7 linked regions of the Homo sapiens genome follow. The protein of the gene in region 3 interacts with the protein of the main gene of each other region in a pairwise test. Each region holds a gene or a part of one and is shown on either strand. Other genes may lie near its edges.

Region 1 (2,695 bases), on a different chromosome or scaffold from region 3:
GTCTCTACTAAAATACAAAAATTAGCTGGGTGCAGTGGTGGGGGCCTGTAATCCCAGCTATTAGGGAGACTGAGGCAGGAGAATCGCTTGAGCCTGGAAGGTGGAGGTTGCAGTGAGCTGAGACTGCACCACTGTGCTCCAGCCTGGGCAACAGAGCAAGACTCCATCTCAATCAATCAATCAATCAATGGAGAGAAAGACTATTATCCTAGGTAACCTCTGAAAAAGGTGGGAATCTTCCTGCTCTCAAGACCTTTGATGTTTCGAAGCCCCTTCAAATCCCAATAGCTCTGACACTGGTTTACTTTTCCTCTAGTTAGAATGAATCTTCCTCTGATCCCCTACCCCTGCACAAGTTTCAGGTCTTAATCACTCAGAATAGTATGGGTTACAAATGTGGGCCGCAGGGGCCTCCCGTACTCAAATCTCACATCTCTGCCTAGCTGTGAAACCTTGGGCAAATCTCTGTCCTTAGTTTTTTTTTCCTTTTTTTTTTTTTTAAGTGACAGGGTCTTGCACTGTTGCCCAGACTGGAGTGCAGTGGTGTGAACACAGCTCACTGCAGCCTCAATCTCCCTCATATCAAGCAATCCTGCCTCCGCCTCAGCCTCCAGAGTAGCTGGGAATACTGGTGTGCACCACCATGCTCGGCCAATCATTTTTATTTTTAATAGAGACAAAGTCTCTCTCTCTTGCCCAGGTCTTGAATTCTTGAGCTCGAGTGATCCTCCTGCCTCAGCCTCCCAAAGCACTCGGATTACAGGCATGTGCCACCAGGCCTGGCTAACTTTTAAGTTTTGTAGAGATGAGGTCTTGCTGTTGCCCAGGCTGGTCTCGAACTCCTGGCCTTAAGTGATCCTCCTGCCTCAGTCTCCCAAAGCACTGGGATTGCAAGCGTGAGCCACCGCACCTGGCCAGTTTATTTTTATTTTTATTTTCTTTTGAGAGGGAGTCTCACTCTGTCGCCCAGGCTGGAGTGCAGTGGCGCGATCTCGGCTCACTGCAAGCTCCGCCTCCCGGGTTCACGCCATTCTCCTGCCTCAGCCTCCTGAGTAGCTGGCCACCACAGGCGCCCGCCACCACTCCTGGCTAATTTTTTGTATTTTTAGTAGAGACGGGGTTTCACCGTGTTAGCCAGGATGGTCTCGATCTCCTGACCTCGTGATCTGCCCGCCTCGGCCTCCCAAAGTGCTGGGATTACAGGCGTGAGCCACCACGCCCAGCCACCAGTTTTAAAAATCTATACAACAGGGATAATATGAAATCTATGTCACAAGCCTGTTGGGATCATAGTACACATACAGTGGTAAGTGTGGTGCTTGCCTCAGGTAGGCAGTCAGATGAATAACTGGATGGTCTCCAAATACACCAAGAGCTCACCCTCTTGCAGTGCTGTCTGCCTGGAATGTTCTTTTCCTCTTTCACTGCCAGATTCCTACTTTTCCTTCAGGGACTACCTTCTCTAGGAAGTCCTTAACTCCTGATCTCCCACCATGGAGGTCTGTTTCCTGGGATCCCACTGTCCCTGCACATCCCCATCACAGCCCAGAGAAGCCTTAGGCCTGACTCATCTCTGCCCCCAGCATCACCCAGTATGGGAGAAGGGAGGCTTTAGGACACACAGGCTGAATGAATCAATGAGACACACTCAGAGAGCAAGCTATCTGTACTTGTGCGTTTCTCCTACCAGATTGTGCATGCCTCCTGTGGGCAGAGCCTGTGCTGACTTGCTCCTGGGTCTCCAGCATCACCCAGTCTGGAGCTGAGGACCTGGGTACCTACAGATTTCCTTCCACACTGTCAGAATTGAGATGAAGGAAGCCCAGAGAAATCAAGTACCCTCCACCAGGCAGAGCAAAGTCCTGGGTGCCCAAAATCCAGGGAAGGCAAGGGCTGGGGGTACAAGCAGAGGATCTGAAGAGGTATATGAGAGTGGCCAGCACAGACCTGGCATAAGCTTGGTGCTCAGTGAAGGTTACCTGATGTTGCTGGGCACCAGGGTGATGCAGTGCAAAGGGCCTTGGCCAACCCACTTTGCAGCATAGCTGGGTGACCTGGTACAGATCACATCGCATTTCAGAGCTTCAGTTTCCCCTCAGGCAGAGAAAGATGACAAGAGAAGCCTGGAAGGGTTGTTCTGGGGAGTCAGTGGGTAAAAAGAGGCCAGGGTGGATCCTGGCACATGGTGGGTACCAGACCAGTTTGTCAGAGGAGGTCCTCTCTCCCCAGAGGTACCCACACTGGCTGTTGCAACCAAACCCTTTTGTTGTTGCTTTTCAGCTGCGTCACACGAAGGCCGTGTCCAACTGCAAGAGCCCGCCTGCTTCACTGGCCCCCAGTGCAGCCTGGCACAGCTGCAGGGTGTCCTCAAGCGCCAGTGGCTGGGATGTCTCAATGATGGCGATGGTCTCCCCCAGCTCTGTGCACATGATAGTCTGTTGAGGCTCTGGAGGTGGGGGTGGGGCAGGAGATGGTGATCTGGGAGGCTGTAGCGTCAAAGTCCGAGCTCGGGCATGGACCCGCTGATGCAGTCGCAAGCCCGCCATGGCGCGGAACCAGCGGCCACAAGTCCCGCAGTAGTAGGGACTCTTGTTGTAGAGACCAGTGATGGGGAGGCGGGGGGCGCGGGCAAAGGCGACTGGCCGCAAGTGCAACCGCCGGTGCTGCTGCAGGTTGGAGCTCTGTGTGAAGCGCT
Region 2 (3,500 bases), on a different chromosome or scaffold from region 3:
TTGGGAGGCTTTAGCACGCAGGGGCATGACTGGGTTTCCATTTTGTTGTTTTACTGACCCTGCTTATATGGGGAGAATGGACTGAAAGGTGTCACAGGAAGAACAAGGAAGGAGGTTGTGGCAGAGAAGGAACGTGATGTCTTGTGAGGGCAGCAGGGAAGGAGGAGGGAGCTTGGGGACACAGTGGGGAGGGAGAATGACCACATCTGAGCACCATGGGTTACATGAAGGTGCAAGGGAGAAAGCAGAACAAGCACAGGTGACTTCTAGGTTCCCAGACTCACCAACAGGGCATGTGCTGGTGCACTTACGGACATGGCTCGACAAGGTATGGGAGGAGTTGGGGAATGGGGAGGGAGAGGCGAAGCTCTCCTGGCTCATTTGTAATGACTGAGAGACACCCCGGTGGGGATGGCTGAGGCTTGGATGAGCGAGTGTGGGACTCAGGGGAAGGGACACAGCTGTATTTTGTGTCTGTTTAAGTGACTGTCTTGCCCAATAGTCTAAGGACATTTTGAGGGGAGGATGAGGCCTTATTTCTCTTCCTCTTCCCAGCATAACTACATTGCAAAGTGAATAAGTAAATTAATTAATTAATTAATTAAAGGTTCAAAACAGGCACTCAGGAAAATGTTCCAGTCTTAAGTCCTTTTCAATCATTGGACATGGGAACCTCCACGTGGATATGCATGGGTATTCGTGTCTGTGTGAGTGTGCACACACATGTGAAAGTCTGGGATCAGAAGGAAAGTGGTCTCGTGGGGGCAGTCAGTGATGAATGGGCACCAAGTCCCCAGGCCCAGCAAGACAATGGTGTTTGAAAACAGACAGGACGGTGAGCTGGAGGGGCGAGTTCTGGGAGGAAATAGAATGCTGTCCACGAAGAAGGGAGAGACCAAAGACACACCATGAGGAGACAACAGCCCAGGGCCTAGTGACCCATGGCATTTAGAGAGGAGTGAGCAGAGCACACAGGAGCGTGTGGTGCAGAATGCCCTGGACAGCCTGAACTGCTCCACCCTGACAGTCTGGGAGCTCTGCCTGCCCCTCTCCAGAGGGAACAGCCCTACCCTGGAAGGGGCTGTGGGTCTGAGCCTCTGTCCCAAGGCTGGGTAAAGACTGAATTGAGTCAAGTTGAACAAAGAGTGAAGTTTGCCCCTTGCCCCCTCCTTGCTCTGCCACCACCTGGCTGTGTAACCATGGATGAGTTACTTAACCTCTCTGAGCTGCAGCTTCCTCATCTGTGCAAGGGATGCTTCTTTGGGCCTCTCTCTCTCCTTCCAGCTTCTAATGCCCTTATAGTCTCTACCTTGAGAGACTTGGGTCCTCCAGACCCGCTTACTCTCCCTGCTGCTCTCAGACACCCTCCTGCTCTCCTAAGCTTGGCCAGGAGAGGGACTTTCTTCCTAAAATCAAAGAGAGCCTGCGGTGCTTGAGCAGCCCTCTCCATCTGTCAGAACAGCCTCATGTCCACTGAGCTTGGTGGGATTGAGGATACAGTCTCCCGCTGGAGACACCATTCCTCCAAGTGGCAAAGCAGAACTCCCATCACCTTACTCTAACAACTCTTCCTTCCCCGCCTTCCTATGTGTTCTCCAGCTTCAAGTGAATTCACTCCACCTGTGCACGTATGTGTGGAGGGAGGAGACATTTTTAAAAGATCAAGGAAGGATGGTGCTTGCCACAGGAAAAGGAACAGTTAACAGACAGGCCAGCCAGGCTAAAGGTCATCCTGATGGTGGGGGAGTGGGTTGGGGCAGGGACATCTGCTCTGTGCCAGGAGCCAGGAATGGGAATACAGAGCTGGAAAAAGACAAGGTCCCTGCAAGGGAGATAGACGCATAGGCAGACTGTGCTGGAACAGGGCACCACCCTCCCAGTCCTACCTGTCCAGCAGGGCCTTGTAGCTGAGTACACCAGAGATGAGGCTGGCTGCAAACCTGCAGGGAGAAGGGAGGCCTGAGCCCTTCCTCCCAGGGCCTGGCTTCCTCCCTCCCTCCCTCCCTTCTGCCTCCCCTCCCTCCTTCCCTCTTCCTTCCATCTCCTTCCTCTTCCCTCCCTTCTCCCTCCCTCCTCCCTCCCTCATCCCCACTGCCAAACTCTGTGATCGCCCATTGTATGCCGCCCCCGTGTGCACTAATCAGATGTGGTTCCTGCACTAATCAGATGTGGTTCTTGCCCCCCAGCCCCATGCCGAGAGCCCACCACAAGCCTTGGATTCAAAATGGTCCTTTGGTGAGAACTGGGGGTCGAGTAGCTCTTGGGGAAGGGAGAGGAAACTGGAATCATCTTGAAGAGGAGAGGGAGCAGAGAGGGAGACGGAAGCTAGGAGAGGCCACAGAGCAGGCCAGAAGGGGTGGAGGGTGAAGGGTGGAGTTCTTCCTTGGAAAAGCCAGCCCTGGGTCTGGACAGGGCAGGACCCCTGGCCTTGTGGAAAATTTTCTCCTGGGAAAAGCCAGTAATTTGGTCCCTTTCCTCCCACCCCCCGGTACTAATGAAAAGGAAATCGAGTGCTTGGGGAAAGGCACTGGAGAAACGAGCAGCGGGAACTGTCATACCAGGATTCTGGGCCTGGCTTAATTGCACCAGGAGGAAAATACCCCCTCAGATGCAATTGTGAGAACTGTTTTCAGAAGTCATTCATCTGTCCACACCTTCCTTCTTCCCTGGGGAGACCCCAGCTACAGTGGGAGGGAAGGCTGGCCAGCTGGTAGGGTGGGGTGGGGAGGTCTTCCTAGCATGGCTAAGCCCTGCCCAGAGGAGAGGTGGGCCCTGCCTCTTGTCCTCGGGCCACTTTGGTCTGCCCTCCCTCTAAACCGTCCCCACCATTTGCCCCACTCAGGTCTTAAGACCAGACTCTGAGTGACTCCAGAAGGGAAACCCTTTCTCCCTGCACCCATCCTCCATTGTCATTAGCGGCCAGAGGCCCTTCCAACGGCTCAGTGAGCTCTGAAATTACAGCAGATGGCACAGGCTCTGGCTGCTGGCAGGGAGGAATTGTTTCCAGCCTTCTGGGGCCTCTGTTTAGAGCTGGGGGCTCTGGAAGGAAGCAGAGGCCCTCTCAGACAGCCTGGGGCAGTGTTTCCCAGGGACAAGTACTGGCGTGGTCCAGGGACACACGCCTCCTCCCAGGGCCTCAGCCAGGTGGAGGCTGTGGGGATATTTGGACCCATGACCTCCATGAGTGTCCATTCCACTGCAAGATAAATATAGACTAAGGCTAATTGTGTGATTGTCACTCGAGTGCAGCCACACCTAACCTTGCTCCCCACCTGATGGCCTGGACGTCCACTGTCTCGGGGCATTTGACCCCAGGAAGCTCAGCCGAGGCTCCAGCTTTGGCCTTTCTTTGCTGGCACTGGGGTAAGGGCCCCTGCCTTGGGTGGGTCCCCAGGTTATGAGCTAGGAGCACCAAGGCCTCACCTCAGCTGGTCATCGGTGCCAGGGAAGTGCTGCCGAGCAAAGATCACGGCAGGGCTGGAGTTGACAGGCAGGGCCAG
Region 3 (3,500 bases):
GGAAGTTGAGATTTAATAAAGATAAGTAATTCACTTAGTGTTAATTAAAAGACTTGGTTGTTTTAATCAAAAAGAGGGGTAATGAAATAGCTGTTTAAAACTTTTTAAAAAACGTAAATCTTATCAGCTAAAACTCTTGGAATGACTTTTTATCATGGGGTCTGCATTATAAATTTAGAATTGCCAGAGACGGACAAACTCAACAAAGTATAAGCATGTAAAAAGAATATTTTTTAAAAAAGCTTCTGTGAAAAAGTGTGAGAGCAGAAATATTTTCTGTAAAATGAGTACACAAAACCTAAACAATCTGCCAAAGTAAAAAACAAAAAGAACCTGTCATCATCAGCTACAACAGTATTTCATAAATTGGTAATTCAATATATTAAGCTCAACTAATGCATTCTAGCTTTTACTTAATGCTAAAAAAGACAATACTCTGTACACAGCTGCTATGAAAAATAAATTTATAGACCTTTAAAATTCAATGTTTTATATATTTTACTTACATTCAAAATGCATCTTGTTTACATTTTTGTTTTTAATTTAGTTGCTCAACTGTACTAATAATTTTGAAATTGTATCATACAGAATAACGTGTTTATTTGCATGTAAATGTCAAATGTGCACATAAGTGTGGTTGACAGTCTCTAAGAGCTTTCTACCTTTCAAGTAGTCATTGTACTTGAAATTTTTGCAGTAACAGAGCAATACTATTGCCTATTATATTAGGCAGTATTTGTATGCATTACAGATAAACGAGGTGACTAGTACAACACTCAAATCTCTTGTCTAAGCAGAATGTTTACTTTTTATATATATTAACTTTCACCTTTTCATTTTACATGGCATCATGTTCACATTTAACATATGCTAATCTTTGCTGTTGTCCACAAGATTTACTATTTATGAGAATGTTCAAACATTCAAATTATGCCTCAAATACTATTACTGAAATAAATATTAATCAAAACTACACCAATTACAAGGGGGGGGAAGCTACTGGACACTCATATTTGTCTGCTAATCCTAGACATTGGAAAAGTAATAGACCAAAACCCTACATAGATACGGTACTGAAATTAAATCACATCTAATGGAGATTATCCTTATCTGAAAGGTTACAATGCTCCCCTAGAATTTTTTCATTCAATATGTGTAATGGTTGATTTTACATCAACTTGATGATGCCACCGGATACCCAGATATTTGGTCAAACGGTATTCTGGTGTTTATGTGAGGGTAGTTTTGGATGAGATTAACATTTAAGTAAGTCAGTAGACTGAGTAAAGCAGAGTGTCTTCCATAATGTGAGTGGGCTTTATCCAATCAGTTGAAGGCCTGAATAGAACAAAAAGTTCACCCTGTCCCCAAGTAAGGAAGACTGTTTCTGCCTAATGGCCATTGAATTGAGACACTGGCTCCTCCTGGCTCTATAGCAGCCTGCTGGTCATCAGACTTGAACTGGGCCATCAGCTGTTTAGGTTTTAGACTTACCAGCCTCCACAATTATGTGAGCAAATTCCTTGTAACAAATCTCCTTATATGTATATATATATAACATATATGTATAACATTTTCTATTGGTTCTGTTTCTCAGGAGAAATCTGACTAATACAACATGGAATATTGAGCCAGCACTTCTTGGTGACTTACATTAAAGCCCTAGTACATCTAAGATTCTCTACAAGGAAATATACATCTGTCATGTCAATAATTCCTGAATAAAAGTAGCAAATAAGAATTTAAGCTGAAATAAACATCAAATTTATTAACAAAATATTCATTCTATTGGACAAAATATGTAATCATTTTAATTTGTGCTTTTCAAACTGTGGGTTGCTACCTCTTGGGTGATACCAAAGTTTTCCAAATGGAAATCAGAATAAGTAGACTGAGATTGAATAGAAAATATCAGAGTACATCCATAGGGGTAAAGATAAACACTATTTTGGAAACTTTTATTTCTGAGGCAGAACAGCATGTGTTTACATGTACGGATGCTGGGAATCAGACTGCCTAGTTTTCAATCCTGGTGCTGGTACTTAGTAGCGTAAACTTGGACAAGTTAGTTAACCACTCAGTGCTTCCCTTTCCTCACCTGCAGAATGGAAATAATGCCTATTTTGATAGGATTTTTGTGCTGATTAACTCAATAAAGTGTGTAAAGCCATATAGGTACTGAGTATTGAGAATTATCATGCATGCCTATATCAGGTTGTCATAAAAATACATTTTTACTATAGATTGAGATTTAAAAGTTTGAAAGCTATGGATTTAGAAGAATTTTTTAACAAAGCACATCACATTTGGTATCTTTTTTTTAATCTCTATAAAGTTTTCTATTCATAGTAGTGCCTACTTTCCTATTTGGTATTAAATACAATTTAGTTCATTTTAATTAGTAACTAATTTACAGAAAATTTGCCCTTATTTGACAGTCTGTGAACACAAATATCATTAATGAGGTCAATTGTGCTCTATAATATACTTTTATTAATAAGTGGCTAATGTTGGGTAGCCATATCAACAACAAGTAAGTCCTTCTGTTTTCTCACTTGCTTACCTAAGTCCAAACAGTGTCAGGAATTTGTTTTTATTTTGTAGAGACACAGACTATCCTCTGGCCTAAACCCAATAGAAGACATGGAATAACCAAAGAGACCGAAGTAGTGGTTAAGTTAGGAATTCAGGTCAGAATTCCTGATCTCACAGGCTCCACCCTCTCACAGAGCTAGAAGTTCTTACGAGAAGCAGATTACGTAGGGTCAATGATCCAATGCAATGATTCATCCAAAAGAACTCTGGCCAGAAACTTTCCAGTTGTGTGGTATCATATCAACACTTTACATAGACAAGTATCAAAGCCTTTCCCTAAGGTTTTTTTTTTTTTTTACTTTCTATAAGCCTTAGCTTTCACTTTTGGTGTTATTTACCATTATGGTCACATTTGGTTTACACTAATTATTACTGTTATTCGTAAACACTAGTATGTGTATATGTAACATCAGTTTCTGTAAAAGTCATTCATTCATTCAACAAATATTGAGGGCCTTAAATAAAAACTTGGTACTGTATTAGGTTATAGAGGTATAATGGTGAGCAGGAGGGAAAAAAAGCATACTCCTGCCCTCACAGAGCTTACAGTCTAGTGGAATAGAGAGTCATTAAACAATCACACACACACACACAAACATACATAAGATTGCAAGATAGCCTCCTTGACAAGCTTCAGCTATAATTGGCACCCCTTATTGACCATACCTGCATCAAGAAAGCAATTTTAGAATCATCTTCATAATCAGCTTCTGTATAGTAGAGCTGTTGAAGTAAACATTTGTACTTCAAAAATGATTCTCGTTTTTGAGCCTCATTCTGAAGGTTAATGCAGTTACGACACCGGTATATGCGGCGTGAGGTGGATGATACAGAAAATTCTGTAGAAGGCAAATAAAGCTGGCAACTGTGGCAAAAGTAAATCTTCTTATAAAATTTCAATGGGT
Region 4 (3,500 bases), on a different chromosome or scaffold from region 3:
TTATAAAAACAATAGTTATAAATCAAAACGTTAATATACATATCCAGGCCAAAAAAATTTCTAATGTATCCAGCACTGAAAGTAAAGTAAAGAACTTTTTTTTGTTGTTGTTGTGAGACAGAGTCTCAGTCACCCAGGGTTGAGTGCAGTGGTGCGATCTTGGCTCACTGCAACCTCCACCTCCCAGATTCAAGTGATTCTCCTGCCTCAGCCTCCCAAGTAGCTGGGACTACAGGCACGTGCCACCATGCCTGGCTAATTTTTTGTGTTTTTAGTAGAGATGGGGTTTCACTGTGTTAGCCAGGATGGTCTCGATCTCCTGACCTCATGACCCGCCCGCCTCGGCCTCCCAAAGTGCTGGGATCATAGGCGTGAGCCACCACACCTGGCCAAGAACTTTTTGCAATGATGGAAATGTTCTGTATCTGTGCTAACCAGTATGGTAGCCACCAGCCATGTACTGAGCATTCAAAATGTGGCTATTATGACTAAAAATAATTGAATTTTAAATTTTAATTAAAATTTAAATAGCTCATAATGGTTAGTGATTTTCTCACTGGACAGTGCCCATTCAGAGGTTGAAATATTAACTTTTCAAAACAGTTAAGTAGCTTGTGGGGATATATTTAGATAATATTAGAATATTGCTGTAATAAAATGATATATCTTACATTCTAAGATGCTACTATTGATGATTGACTTAGGCAAATGCTTCCACTTCTTATGTGCTCATCTTTTCTTGCCTGTTAGTGGATTTGTAAGAATAGGAGTAACAGTCCTGCACCTCAATACTAACCAAAGATCTGTAGATTTGCCGTGGCCATTATACTTAAAAATTCATTATTCTTTTTACCCTTTGTTAGCTGGTTTTGCTATAGTATAGTAGTAATTCATTGAATGATGCTTTTTGAACTTTTTAGTGCAAGAAACTTTAAAATAAGTTACAGAAATTGAACTTTAAGGCCACTAGGTTTTGTTTTTTTTTTTTTTTTTTTGAGATGGAGTCTCGCTCTCGCCCAGGCTGGAGTGCAGTGGCACGATCTCGGCTCACTGCAAGCTCCGCCTCCCAGATTCATGCCATTCTCCTGCCTCAGCCTCCTAAGTTGCTGGGACCACATGCCTGGCTAATTTTTTTTGTATTTTTAGTGGAGATGGGGTTTCACCATGTTAGCCAGGATGGAATTGATCTCCTGACCTCGTGATCCACCCACCTTGGCCTCCCAAAGTGCTGGGATTACAGGCGTGAGCCACCGTGCCCAGCCTAAGGCCATTAGGTTTTAAGAAAATGTTGTAAATCACTTGAGGATTGAGGATATTCTTTTAATATTTAGTTTGTGATTTCAGGACTTAGTATTCTTATACCACACTAGATTATTAGTAATGCTAAGTTCATGTAAAAGAAAACCATAGTTCTCTACATCCCCCCAAAATTAGAATAATAATCCTCTGTTTTAAAAATCGGTGCCCTCTAGGCCAGGCACAGTGGCTCACACCTGTAATACCAGCACTTTGGGAGGTCGAGGTGGGCGGATCACTTGAGGTCAGGAGTTTGAGACCAAGCCTGGTCAACATCGTGAAACCCCATCTCTACAAAAATACAAAAATTAGCCAGGTGTGGTGGCACATACCTGTAATCCCAGCTACTCAGGAGGCCGAGGCACAAGAATCGCTTGAACCCATGGGCGGAGGTTGCAGCGAGCCGAAATCACACTACTGCACTCCAGCCTGGACAACAGCGAGACTCTGTCTCAAAAAAAAAAAAAAAAAAATTGATGCCTTCTATAGTTGAGAACTATAGGTATGAGTGGAATCTATAGCCAAGTTGCTCTGCAACATAAAAATTAATGATCTTTCTCATTATAATCAAATGTAAATAAGTGAGTTTTTTTTTCCTTGCTAAAGTATGGGACTATATTGGAAAAAGATGTTCTGGTTGTGGAGAAAGACATCAGTGGTTCTGATAATTCAAACAGATGGTGTTTCTTTTGGCTGGGTTAGATCTCATGTCCTGAGGAACCCTATCAGGGAGGGTAGGTCATCTCCAAATCTTGAATAGTAAGTGGCCCTTTCACAGTGCCGTATCAGTAACCATGAAGGTAAAGAGATTGTGGACTTTGGTAATACTCACTGTAAAATCACAGTGGTAGACAGTCATCAGAGACCTATATATGCATACAAGTTATTCAGCACCAACACCAGGAGATATCCTGTATTTAGGATGTAAAACTTTTTCTAGAGTGTTTTTTGAAATTTTGCTTTCAATTGACTTGGTTAACAAATTATTGTTTCCTGTGGATCTCTAAATTTGAGGCCCTAATGGAAACAAACTAGAATCAAGCTACAATCATTTCTGTTATATCAGCCAATCAGAAGAGTTATTTGTTCTGTCTGGCTATATGTTGTTAAATTCTATATGGTAATGTGAAAAAATACTTCAGCTTAGAGCACCTCTCCCTCCCCTACATACCTACCCACACATTTCTCAGAGGAGTTCTTATTGCCACAGCCTTTGGAGTAAAACAGCTCAGAGCTTGAACCTGGCTCTGTTGCATAATAGCTGTAGCTCCTCAGTTTTCATCTATAAAATGAAAATAACGGAGATGAGGATTAAGGGAAATTATATACACAGCACTTTGCAGCCAAATACTGGATACAAGGTAAGCACTCGATCAATGGTATGCTGAATTATTTTATCCTACATTAATGTATTTGAAAAAAACATAATTGGGGATGATTAATATGTCATTACAGATGTTTTTCCCCTTTTCCCTAGGATGAAAATGGGATAAATAGACCAGTCTGTTCCTATGTTAAACCACTTCGAGCTGGACGGCTTCTTGATACTCCAAGGCAAGCAGCAAGATTTGTTAATGTCCTTGGTTATGAACGAGCCCCTGTTATTGGAGGAGGAGGTAAACAGGAGCAGTGGTGCACTCTGCTGGCCTTTCTCTGTAGAAACAAGGTATTATACACACATAATAGAATTAAGTAGCAGTATATCATAGTTACTCTGAATTTGTAATCCATTTGTAAAAGAATGCCTTAGAAAAATGCACATATAGTCAACCCTCTGTACCCACAGGTTCTGTATCTGTAGATTCAACCAACTGCAGATCAAAAATACTTACAAAAGTAAAAAATTACAATAATAAAAAATAGTACAAATTAAAAAATGGTGTGTAACAACGTTTATGTAGCATTTACATTGTATTGAGATTTTTAAACAATTTAGAGGTGATTTAAAGTATATAGGAGGATGTGCTTAGGTTATATATAAAATACTATACCATTTTGGCTGGCCGCAGTGGCTCATGCCTGTATCCCAGCATTTTGGGAGGCTGAGGCAGGTGGATCACCTGAGGTCAGGAGTTCAAGACCAGTCTGGGCAACATGGTGAAACCCTATCTCTACTAAAATACAAAAAATTATCTGGGCATGGTGTCGTGTGCCTGTAATCCCAGCTACTCAGGAGGCTGAGGCAGGAGAATCACTTGGACCCT
Region 5 (3,016 bases), on a different chromosome or scaffold from region 3:
TTTTTTTTTTTTGAGACCGAGTTTCGATCTTGTTTCCCAGGCTGGAGTGCAATGGCGCGATCTCGGCTTGCCGCAACCTCTGCCTCCCGGGTTCAAACGGTTCTCCTGCCTCAGCCTTCCAAGCAGCTGGGATTACAGGCATGTGCCACCATGCTGGGCTAATTTTTTTATTTTTAGTAGAGACGGGGTTTTGCCTTGTTGGCTAGGCTGGCCTTGAACTCCTGACCTCAGGTGACCTGCCCGCTTCAGCCTTCCAAAGTGCTGGGATTACAGGTGTGAGCCACTTTGCCTGGCCCACATTTTTATTTTCTTTTCTTTCTTTCTTTTCTTTTTTTTTTTTTTTTTTTTTGAGATGGAGTTTCACTCTTGTTGCCCAGGCTGGAGTGCAATGGCGCGATCTCGGCTCACTGCAACCTCCGCCTCCTGGGCTCAAGCGATTCTCCTGCCTCAGCCTTCCAAGTACCTGGGATCACAGGCATGTGCCACTACACCCGGCTAATTTTGTATTTTTTAGTAGAGACAGGCTTTCTCCATGTTAGGCTGGTCTCGAACTGTCAACCTCAGGTGATCCACCCGCCTCAGCCTCCCAAAGGGATGGGATTACAGGCGCGAACCACCGTGCCCCCCCCAACATTTTCATTTTCATCTCATGAAGAAAAGTTGATAGAAAAAAAGCCAGGTGGTTGGTACCCATGTTTATATAAAGATCCTGTCACAGACTCCATAGGATGAAACTCAGCTGTGAAATACGTGGGATTAAAAAGAGATTAGAGTCTGGGCGGGCAGATCACAAGGTCAAGAGATGGAGGCCGGCATGGCGGCCCACGCCTGTTATTCCAGCACTGTGGGAGGCCGAGGCGGGCGGATCACAAGGTCAAGAGATGGAGGCCGGCACGGTGGCTCACACCTGTCATCCTAGCACTGTGGGAGGCCAAGGTAGGCAGATCACAGGGTCAAGAGATCAAGGCAGGGTGTGGTGGCCCACACTTGTCATCCCAGCACTGTGGGAGGCTGAAGTGGATGGATCTCAAGGTCAGGAGATTGAGACCATCCTGGCCAACATAGTGAAACGCCATCTCTACTAAAAATACAAAAATTAGCTGGGTGTGTGGCGTGTGCCTGTAATCCCAGCTACTGGGGAGGCTGAGGCAGGAGAATCTCTTGAGCCTGGGAGACGGGGGTTGCAGTGAGCCAAGAGCAAGACTCCATCTCAAAAAACAAACAAAAAAAAGATTAGTTTAAACTTTTTATTTGAAAATTCTCAAAATTGAATGGCATAGGCCAGGCGCAGTGGCTCACACCTGTAATCCCACCACTTTGGGAGGCCAAGGCAGGCGGATTGCTTCAGGCCAGGTGTTCGAGACCAGCCTGGCCAACATGGCAAAACCCCGACTCTACTAAAAATCCAAAAAAATTAGCCGGGCATGGTGGCAGGTGCCTGTAATCCCAGCACTTTGGGAGGCCGAGGTGGATGGATCACCTGAGGTCAGGAGTTTGAGACCAGCCTGGCCAACATGGTAAAATCCCGTCTCTACTAAAAATACAAAAAAGTAGCCGGGCATGGTGGTGCATGCCTGTAATCCCAGCTACTCAGGAGGCTGAGGCAAAAGAATCGCTTGAACCTGGGAGGCAGATGTTGTGGTGAGCCAAGATCGCACCATTGCACTCCAGCCTGGGCAACAAGAGTGAAACTCCATCTCAAAAAAAAAGAAAAAAAGTGGAAATGTTTGATTATGTTTAGGTTGAAAGCAGAGTTTTGCATCAGCGAAATGGTTTTTCATGAGACCGAAATGAGCGTAAAGCAGAAGCAAGGGTCAAGGTTTTGCCCAGGGAGGACAAGAAGAACTCCCCAGAGGACAGTGGGGAATGGAGAGGACAGTGGGGAATGGGGAGGACCGAGAAGCTACTCACTACCCCAAGTAACCAGGCGTATTTTTGTAGGGCCAGGTGCATGCCCATATTGATTGACAGGGTCTCACTGTGTTGCCCAAGCTGGACGTGAACTCCTGGGCTCCAGCCATCCTACTGTCTCAGCCTCCCAAGTAGCATACCACCACACTCATCTGCCTCCTTTGCTTTTTTTTTTTTTTTTTTTTTTTTTTTTTTTTGAGATAGAGTCTTGCCCTGTTGCTCAGACTGGAGTGCAATGGCACCATCTCAGCTCACCGCAACCCCCACCCTTCTGAGTTCAAAGGATTCTCCGGCCTCAGCCTCCCAAGTAGCTGGGATTACAGGCATGCACCACCACAGCCAGCTAATTTGTTGTATTTTTATTTTTATTTATTTATTTATTTTCGAGACAGAGTCTCACTCTGTCACCAGGGCTGGAGTGCAGTGGCACGATCTTGGCTCACTGCAACTTCCGCCTCCCTAGTTCAAGTGATTCTCCTGCCTCAGCTTTCCGAATAGCTGGGACTACAGGCGCTCGCCGCCATGCCCAGCTAATTTTTGTAGTTTTAACAGAAATGGGGTTTCACCATGTTGGCCAGGATGGTCTCGATCTCTTGACCTCGTGATCCGCCCACCTCAGCCTCCCAAAGTGCTGGGATTACAGGCATGAGCCACTGCGCCCAGCCCTTGTTGTATTTTTAGCAGAGACAGGGTTTCACCATGTTGGCCGGGCTGGTCTTAAAACTCCTGACCTCAGGTGATCCGTCCACCTCGGCCTCCCAAAGTACCAGGATTACAGGTGTGAGCCACTGCACCCGCCCCTGTCTTTGCTTCTTAAGGTGAAATTGAGATGACTGAATCTTAGTACAATTTTTTTTTTTTGAGACAGGGTCTTGCTGTCACCCAGGCGGCAGTGCAGTGTGGCAAAATCATAGCTCACTGTAGCCTTCAATTCCTCAGCTCAAGTGATCCTCCCACCTCCACCTCTCAAGTAGCTGGGACCACAGGCATGCTCCACAATGCCTGGCTAATTTTTTATTTTTTTATTTTTTGTAGAGACAGGGTTTTGCTATGTTGCCAAGGCTAGTCTTGAACTCCTGGGCTCAAGGGATCTGCCTGCCTTGGC
Region 6 (3,500 bases), on a different chromosome or scaffold from region 3:
AGTGCTGATTTACTGTGAGCCAGAGGAATACAGAATTGACTATTCCTGTTTCTGCTCCTTTTCCCTTGCATCATGTGGATTACTGTACCCTCCCTCTTCCCCTCTAGCCTGCTGTTTCCATTTAAATATTGAAGCCCTCAAAATTATCTTTGGATAAAGGCACAGACCACAGACTGTTTCTGTGATTCCATGCTCTTTTCTTCTGGGAATGTCTTCACCTTGGCAAAATAAACTTCTAAATCAATTGAGACATGTCTTACATACTTTTTAGTTTACACTATTGACCTATCTTCAAGCTCAGGAGTCCCCAGCCCCTAGGCCACGGACCTGGACCCGTCCATGGCCTGTTAGGAACTGGGTCACACAGCAGGAGGTGAGTGGCGGGCTAGCCAGTAAATCTTCATCTGTATATACAGCCACTCCCCATCACTTTCATTGCCGCCTGAGCTCCGCCTTCTGGAAGATCAGCAGTGGCATTAGATTCTCATAAGAGCACAAACCGTATTGTGAACTGCACATGTGAAGGATCTAGGTTGCATGCTCCTTATGAGAATCTAATGCCTGATGATCTGTCACTGCCTCCCATCACCCCAAGATGGGACCATCTAGCTTTACAAAAACAATCTCCGGGCTCCCAGTGATTCTACATTATGGTGAATTGTATAATTATTTCATTATCTATTACAATGTAATAATAATAGAAATAAAGTACATAATACATGTAATGCACTTCAATTGTCCTGAAACCATGCCATTCGCCCCCCAGTCTATGGAAAAATTGTCTTCCACGAAATCTGCCCCTGGTGCCAAAAAAGATTGGGGACTGCTACTCAAGCTTGCTGAGTCTTTCCTCAACTGTGTCCAGTCTACTGATAATCCCATCAAAGGCATTCTTCATTTGCTGGAGTGCAGTGGCACAATTTCGGCTCACTGCAACCTCCACCTCCCGGGTTCAAGCGATTCTCCTGCCTCAGCCTCCTGAGTAGCTGGGATTACAGGCACCCGCCACCACGCCCAGCTAATTTTTGTACTTTTAGTAGAGATGGGGTTTCTCCATGTTGGCCAGGCTGATCTTGAACTCCTGACCTCAGGTGATCTACCCACCTCAGCCTCCCAAAGTGTTGGGATTACAGGCGTGAGCCACTGTGCCTGGGCTCTGTTACAGTATTTTTGATTTCTAGCATTTCCCTAAATATTCTTCTCAGGGAGAGTTTACATTTTGCAGCTCTTTTAACTGTTATTCACTGTTATCCACTATTATTATAATAAAGCCTTGTTAGCATGGTGGTGAAGTGCAGAGGAGAGGAAGTGTTCTATAATATTATGATTAAATTTCAGTCTTTTGTGGGCCTGTGTCCCTGGGCTTTGATTTTCATAAGAGTTTTATTTTAGCGCCTTTCTCTCCCTTACATGAGACTAGAAACCTAAAGGGGGCTGAAATAGGAGAAACGCCTTTCCCTCAGCTGAGATAAGGCTCTGATAAAGTCTTTTCCACCACAGAATAGGCTTTTTTTTTAAAAAATGAAGAAGGCTCTGGGTGTATTTCACAAAAGTACAGTTCCCTTCCCACTGCAGGGGCCATGAGGCCCTTCACTGCAAGAATATGGTGGGTTTCTTGGAAGTAATGCCCACAAAAGTGTGGGGACCTCCCTGACTGCAGATCCTCAGGGGTTTCTCACTCTCATATTATTCCACACTCAGTCTCCAGCAATTCATCAAAATTACATTTAAGTGCTCTTACCTATTTATGTCTCTAGCAGTTTCTGTTCTATGAAAGAAGAAATAGGCTGTGACTCTCTGGATTTGCCTTCAGAATTTGGGGTAGTCAACTGTCCTATGCCTCAGTTCTTTGAAGAATCTAAGAAATGTTGTTGATTCTGTTTGTTCAGATTTTTTTCTGGTTGTAAGTACAGGAGCAATGACTTACAAGTTCTTACATGTTGGAACTGAAACTGGAAGTCTGGCTATGGGTTTTAACAGGGAAGCTAAAGAGCAGTGAAAAATAAAAAATAAAAAATTTAAAATGGGCTGGGTGTGGTGGCTCACACCTTTAATCTCAGCACTTTGGGAGTCCAAGGTGGGAGGATCGCTTAAGTCCAGGAGCTCAAGAGCAGCCTAGGCAACATAGCAAGACCCCCTCTCTATTTAAAAAAAAAAAAAAAAAAAAAAAAAAGCAGTGCACATTGCTTTTGTCTGCTTCTTTTCTGCTGAACATCACATCTGGGAATTAGGTTGCCCTGGAAAACCCAGCTGCTCCATAAATATTAGCTCTTTTCACTCCCAGGTACAGGAAATTTATGGGGCTCCCTGAACCTGACATCTCAGCCCAAAAATTTGTAATGTGCAATGCAAATTAGACTTTTGACCTCCTGAATCAAAATTCCTGGTAATGGCCATGCACAATGGCTCATGCCTGTGATTCCAGCACTTTGGGAGGCCAAGGTGGGAGGGTCACTTGAGTGCAGGAATTCAAGACTGGCCTGGGCAATGCAGTTATACCTTGTTTCTACAAAAAATCTTTAAAAATTGAAAAATATATATATTATTGGTAATGAAGTCTGAGGAACTGTAACTTAATGCTAGGAGAGAAAAGTTGTCTATGTCACTACCACCACCACCACCATCAAGAGGCAGTGCATGATACTATTAGAATCTATAGTTTACATTAACTGCCTAATGATTGTTAAGTGCTTGCTTAGACTAGAGTAACTAGTTTCTGAGCCCTGGGAGTACATTCTAAAGGGAGTTTGTACAGAAGAGTTGGGAGTACCCAGATTTCAGAGCCAGACAGTCCAAAGTCTGAATACAGACTTTGTCACTATTTGTGTAACTTTAGCAAAGGTACTTAACGTCTTTATAACCCAGTTTCTTCATCCTTAAAAGGGAGCTGGCATTAACTACTTTACAGGATTATTGTGTATACTGAGAAAACTATTTGATATCCTGCACAACATGTGTATATCAGATCTTTCTAGTTCTTTTAAAATTTCTGATCTATTCCTATTATGGAGTGGGCTGGAGAAAGCAAGAAAGAATAGATGAGAACTACATGGTTTTTAAAGGTCATAATTGCTAAGTCAGTGTCACTGTGCTCTTTGTGCTGTAGCCTCAGTGCTTTGTATATTCTGTGTTGCTTACCATAACCCTTTACTAAAAGGATGCCATTTTTGCATAGTTGCCACTGCAGGTTACTGACTTTCTCCTCCTTTTAGTCACATGTCACAGAGAGGCTAATTCCATTTCCAAGAGTGAGTCTCTTTGGTCTACGGATAATCTATCCCCTTGGTACTCTCTTGTTTAGGAAGAGGCATTGATCAAATTCCACTCAATGTGACATTAGGGGAAGGTTACAGATGGACTTCTGAGGAAAGTGTCCTCATTCATAAGACAAAGTCATCAGAAAAGATTGTCTTTTCTTCTTCCTCAGGAAGTTGCTTACCTCCTGGAATTGTTGTAGCCATCAAGCTATCAGCCTTAGGACGGAAGTTGATATTGTGAAT
Region 7 (3,500 bases), on a different chromosome or scaffold from region 3:
TCTCTGGCCCTCAATTTCTTCAATGATAAAATGAAAAGGTCAGATTACATGATCCGCAAAGCTTCATGGGAGCTTTGTGCTCTGCCAGTTAGGAGCTGTGTAGCCAAGAGCAGATACTTAACCTCTCCACCTCTCAGTGTTCTCATCCAATAAAATGTGAATAACAATAGTTCTAAACTCTCACATTATTAAAAGGGTTAAAATAAGGGAATACACACAAAGCTCTTAGAACAATGCATGGTACACAGCGTGTTCGATAAATGTTAGCTATCATTCAGTTTCATGGCCAAAGACATAGGCTTTGGTGTCAGATGAATCTGTCTTCAAGTCCAGCTTTGCGACTATGGGCAAGTTAGTTAACTTGTCTGAGCTTCCATTTCTCCCTCTATAAAAGTGAGCAAATAATACCTACCTCATGGGGTTGTTGAGAGAACTAAGTGGTGTGATATAAGTAACAGGTAATCAACAGCTGTTACCTCTTGTTAAGTTTCTCAGTATGTGTTTATGAATGAATGCCAGTTCTGTCCTGAAGATGCTAAAGCAAAGTTACTTGGTTGCTAAGATAATAATAAACTGATATTACTATTGTTATTTTTATGACTCAGACGCCTCTCCACACCTATATACAATAAGCTCAGCCCTGGCTCAGTGCATGACAATGGTCCCTTGTTGAGAGACAAATCTTATTATAGGACAGGCCCTTCTTTCCAGTTGATGCCAGTATATGATTACTTTTAATTTCCTTAAGGCATCTAACTAGTTTAAACCAAAAATTGTATTTCTGAGATTATAGATTTTGCTCCTGTGAACCTCAAACTCCACCTTATTTTATTCATTAGATTATTAATATTATCTTTAATACTACTAGTTCTCAAATAATTTCAACCTGCATTACTTCTGCAATAAAAATAATAAAGTATGTTTAAATGCTTTGTCAACAATTACAAAAGTGTCATTGCAAAGGCCCTTAAGCTGCTGGCCACATTGGTAACCTTCCTTCTCCCTGCTCTTCCCAATCAGGTTGAGTGGAGAGGGAGTTTCTCCAGTTAACATTTGTGAGTATGACATACTTCTTGGGCCATTTGGAGTGTGTGTGGTAGAGGGGATGGGGATGTGGTGGGCTTGCCAGAGGGTGAAGATATGACGGGTTAGACGGGATCTCACAGACAGCGTTCATTTGGAGAAGGTTTGAGGTTTTGGGTCCCTTAAAAAGCAAGCCATATTAGGAGTCTTTAATGTCACAGTTCTTTCCTCTTTGAGAGTGAGGGTGTCACAGAAGGGGTGATGAGAGGTTTGATGTCATTGTTCTGAGTGGGTTTAAAAGATCCTGGCCACATCTCCTACCTCCCAGAATTCCCTGCCTTTTTGTTGGGGCTGCAAGCCTAGCACAGAGGTGAGCACTTGATGTAGACGGGATTTATGAAAATTCCTGGTCTGGCTTGGACCTTTGAAGGGAGCCTTCATGCTGTGGACAAGAGCATTGCCAACTAGGCAGCTTCTCTCCTAAACAGTTTGAGAAGAAGCTCCACTGCTTGGCTCAACTCTGCCGAGTATAACTGCAGAAGGATGCCAAGGGTTTTCAAGGCAGTAAGGGCAGCATAAAATATGGCAGTTGGCTACAGTAGCTCTAAAACAGGAGAGGTATTAACAAGCTGGCATGGCCCTGTGCTGGTGAGAGAAGAAGTGGTCATTCGCAGAGCTCAGTGCTGGCATCACAAGGGCAACAGAAATGACTCTTACAACTCACCCTCTACAAGTGAGTTTGAGTTTGGTTTTCTTGATGGGCATTCATAAGGGCAATTCATTATATTAGCCAATGATTCTAGAAGGCAGAGCCCTCTGAACCACCCAGGTGTCCTTCCTCCCTGATGTCTTTGTCTAGTGGTGCCAGAGACCCTCAAAGCTAATTTTGGGGACAGGCCTTCAAGCATAACCTTGAAGCTCCTTTTCTCTTGAAAACACCTAATTGTCTGTATTAGTTTTCCAGGGCTGTTGCAAAAAGTACCACCAGTCAGGTGGTTTAAAGCAACAGAAATGTCTTGTCTCACAGTTCCGGAGGCTGAAATTAAGGGTTAGCAGGGCCCTGGTCCCTCTGAAACTTGGAGCCTGGACCAGCCTCCTGCTCTGTATATCATGCAGGGTGGCACTATCCCCTCTCCAAACCAGATAGTGTTCTGGAACACGGAGGCAGCATGGGCAGCCCAGCCCCCCTCCAGCCTCCTCCTAGCTCTGGCGGTGGCCATCCATCCTCGGTGTTCCTTGGCTTGTGGCTGCATCCCTCCACTCTCTGTTTCTGTGATTGTATGACCGTGTCCCTGTGTGTCTGTGGCTTCAGATGAATGTCTTCCTTCTTTCTGTATGGACACCAGTCATGTTAGATCAGGGCCCACCCTACAGACTTTATCTTAACTTGGTTATACCTGCAACGATCCCATTTCCAAATAAGGTTGCATTCACGGATACTGGTGTTAACACTTCACCATAGGTTTTTGAAGGACACAATTCATCCTATAACGGAGTCTATTTTTTTAAAATTTGATTTTCCTTCGGCAGGACCCAAAGTAGGGTGCTAGAATGTGTAAGGGGATGAGTTATAAATTAGGAGAAGAATAGGTTGGGAGGAGAACGGGGGCAGAGTTCACTGGCCAACAGGTTAATCTGTCACTTGATCCATCAAGAATATTCCAGCCTCCACCCTGGGATTCTGAGTGTGGGGCTGGGAGACGCTGAGGGAAGAGGAGTGTGCCCCTCCCCCCATAAGCATCCAGAAGGAAGAGAAACTCTGGAGTCAGGCTCAGACAGGGAGACAGACCCAGACGGCACAGCAGGAGGATCAAAGGGAAAGCAGGTGGACTGGAGCTGCTTCCAGGAGGAGAGGGCTCCAGTAGGTTCTGGAAGGGGAGGAGGAAGCCATTCCAGCCTAAGAGGCTGCCTGGAGCTGCAGCTCAGGAACACAGGCAGTGATCTCACTAAGCAGGGGACATTGGAAGGAGGCAAACTGCTGGCTGACGAGACCACCCCCTCCCCACCCAAGGACTCCAGGGCACAGGCCCTCACACTCCCAGCTGTCTTCTCGCTTGCACTTGATCTGACCACACCTCCTCTCTTCCCGGCAGCTGTGGTCACCTCTACTCTTTCCAGTGGCTATGGAAGCGGCAGCAGCATTGGAGGTGGAAACCTGGGCCTCGGTGGGGGCAGCGGCTACTCCTTCACCACCAGTGGTGGGCATAGCCTGGGTGCAGGCCTGGGAGGTTCTGGATTCAGTGCCACCAGCAACCGGGGCTTAGGGGGCAGTGGTTCTAGCGTCAAGTTTGTCTCCACCACATCCTCCAGCCAGAAGAGCTACACGCACTAAGAGAGCCCCATGGCTCCCTCTACCCTGCCTTGAGGCCTGTTTGCAGTCACACCTGGACACCAGGGTCCTCCTCCTTCCTCTCTCCTTGTAAGGTGCACCTGTGCTGCTGGGAGCCTGGAGTACTGGCTATACCCATTCCCAGGCC

Evidence for each region.
Region 1: the proteins of IQUB (region 3) and ZNF526 interact in binary tests that used the Homo sapiens proteins (3 or more experiments, as listed by UniProt).
Region 2: the proteins of IQUB (region 3) and CHAT interact in binary tests that used the Homo sapiens proteins (3 or more experiments, as listed by UniProt).
Region 4: the proteins of IQUB (region 3) and CEP76 interact in binary tests that used the Homo sapiens proteins (3 or more experiments, as listed by UniProt).
Region 5: the proteins of IQUB (region 3) and ANAPC11 interact in binary tests that used the Homo sapiens proteins (3 or more experiments, as listed by UniProt).
Region 6: the proteins of IQUB (region 3) and GPRASP3 interact in binary tests that used the Homo sapiens proteins (3 or more experiments, as listed by UniProt).
Region 7: the proteins of IQUB (region 3) and KRT75 interact in binary tests that used the Homo sapiens proteins (3 or more experiments, as listed by UniProt).

The regions. Positions count from the first base shown.
Region 1 is NC_000019.10:42,226,007-42,228,701, reverse strand, and holds the end of ZNF526 (zinc finger protein 526), read right to left. Parts: coding exon 2,286-2,695; 3' UTR 501-2,285; downstream 1-500. UniProt on the Homo sapiens protein: May be involved in transcriptional regulation.
Region 2 is NC_000010.11:49,620,537-49,624,036, reverse strand, and holds part of CHAT (choline O-acetyltransferase), read right to left. Parts: coding exon 3,424-3,500; intron 1,941-3,423; coding exon 1,887-1,940; intron 1-1,886. UniProt on the Homo sapiens protein: Catalyzes the reversible synthesis of acetylcholine (ACh) from acetyl CoA and choline at cholinergic synapses.
Region 3 is NC_000007.14:123,458,096-123,461,595, forward strand, and holds part of IQUB (IQ motif and ubiquitin-like domain-containing protein), read right to left. Parts: coding exon 3,262-3,500; intron 1-3,261. UniProt on the Homo sapiens protein: Adapter protein that anchors the radial spoke 1 (RS1) complex to the A microtubule of outer doublet microtubules in axonemes. The triple radial spokes (RS1, RS2 and RS3) are required to modulate beating of the sperm flagellum.
Region 4 is NC_000018.10:12,685,724-12,689,223, reverse strand, and holds part of CEP76 (centrosomal protein of 76 kDa), read left to right. Parts: intron 1-2,773; coding exon 2,774-2,962; intron 2,963-3,500. UniProt on the Homo sapiens protein: Centrosomal protein involved in regulation of centriole duplication. Required to limit centriole duplication to once per cell cycle by preventing centriole reduplication.
Region 5 is NC_000017.11:81,894,723-81,897,738, forward strand, and holds part of ANAPC11 (anaphase-promoting complex subunit 11), read left to right. Parts: intron 1-3,016. UniProt on the Homo sapiens protein: Together with the cullin protein ANAPC2, constitutes the catalytic component of the anaphase promoting complex/cyclosome (APC/C), a cell cycle-regulated E3 ubiquitin ligase that controls progression through mitosis and the G1 phase of the cell cycle.
Region 6 is NC_000023.11:102,727,243-102,730,742, reverse strand, and holds part of GPRASP3 (G protein-coupled receptor associated sorting protein 3), read right to left. Parts: intron 1-3,500. UniProt on the Homo sapiens protein: Survival and differentiation promoting protein that plays a role in the regulation of neurosynaptogenesis. Induces phosphatase PP2A activity which results in APP dephosphorylation and inhibits BACE1-mediated processing of APP.
Region 7 is NC_000012.12:52,424,372-52,427,871, reverse strand, and holds part of KRT75 (keratin, type II cytoskeletal 75), read left to right. Parts: intron 1-1,020; coding exon 1,021-1,055; intron 1,056-3,116; coding exon 3,117-3,355; 3' UTR 3,356-3,500.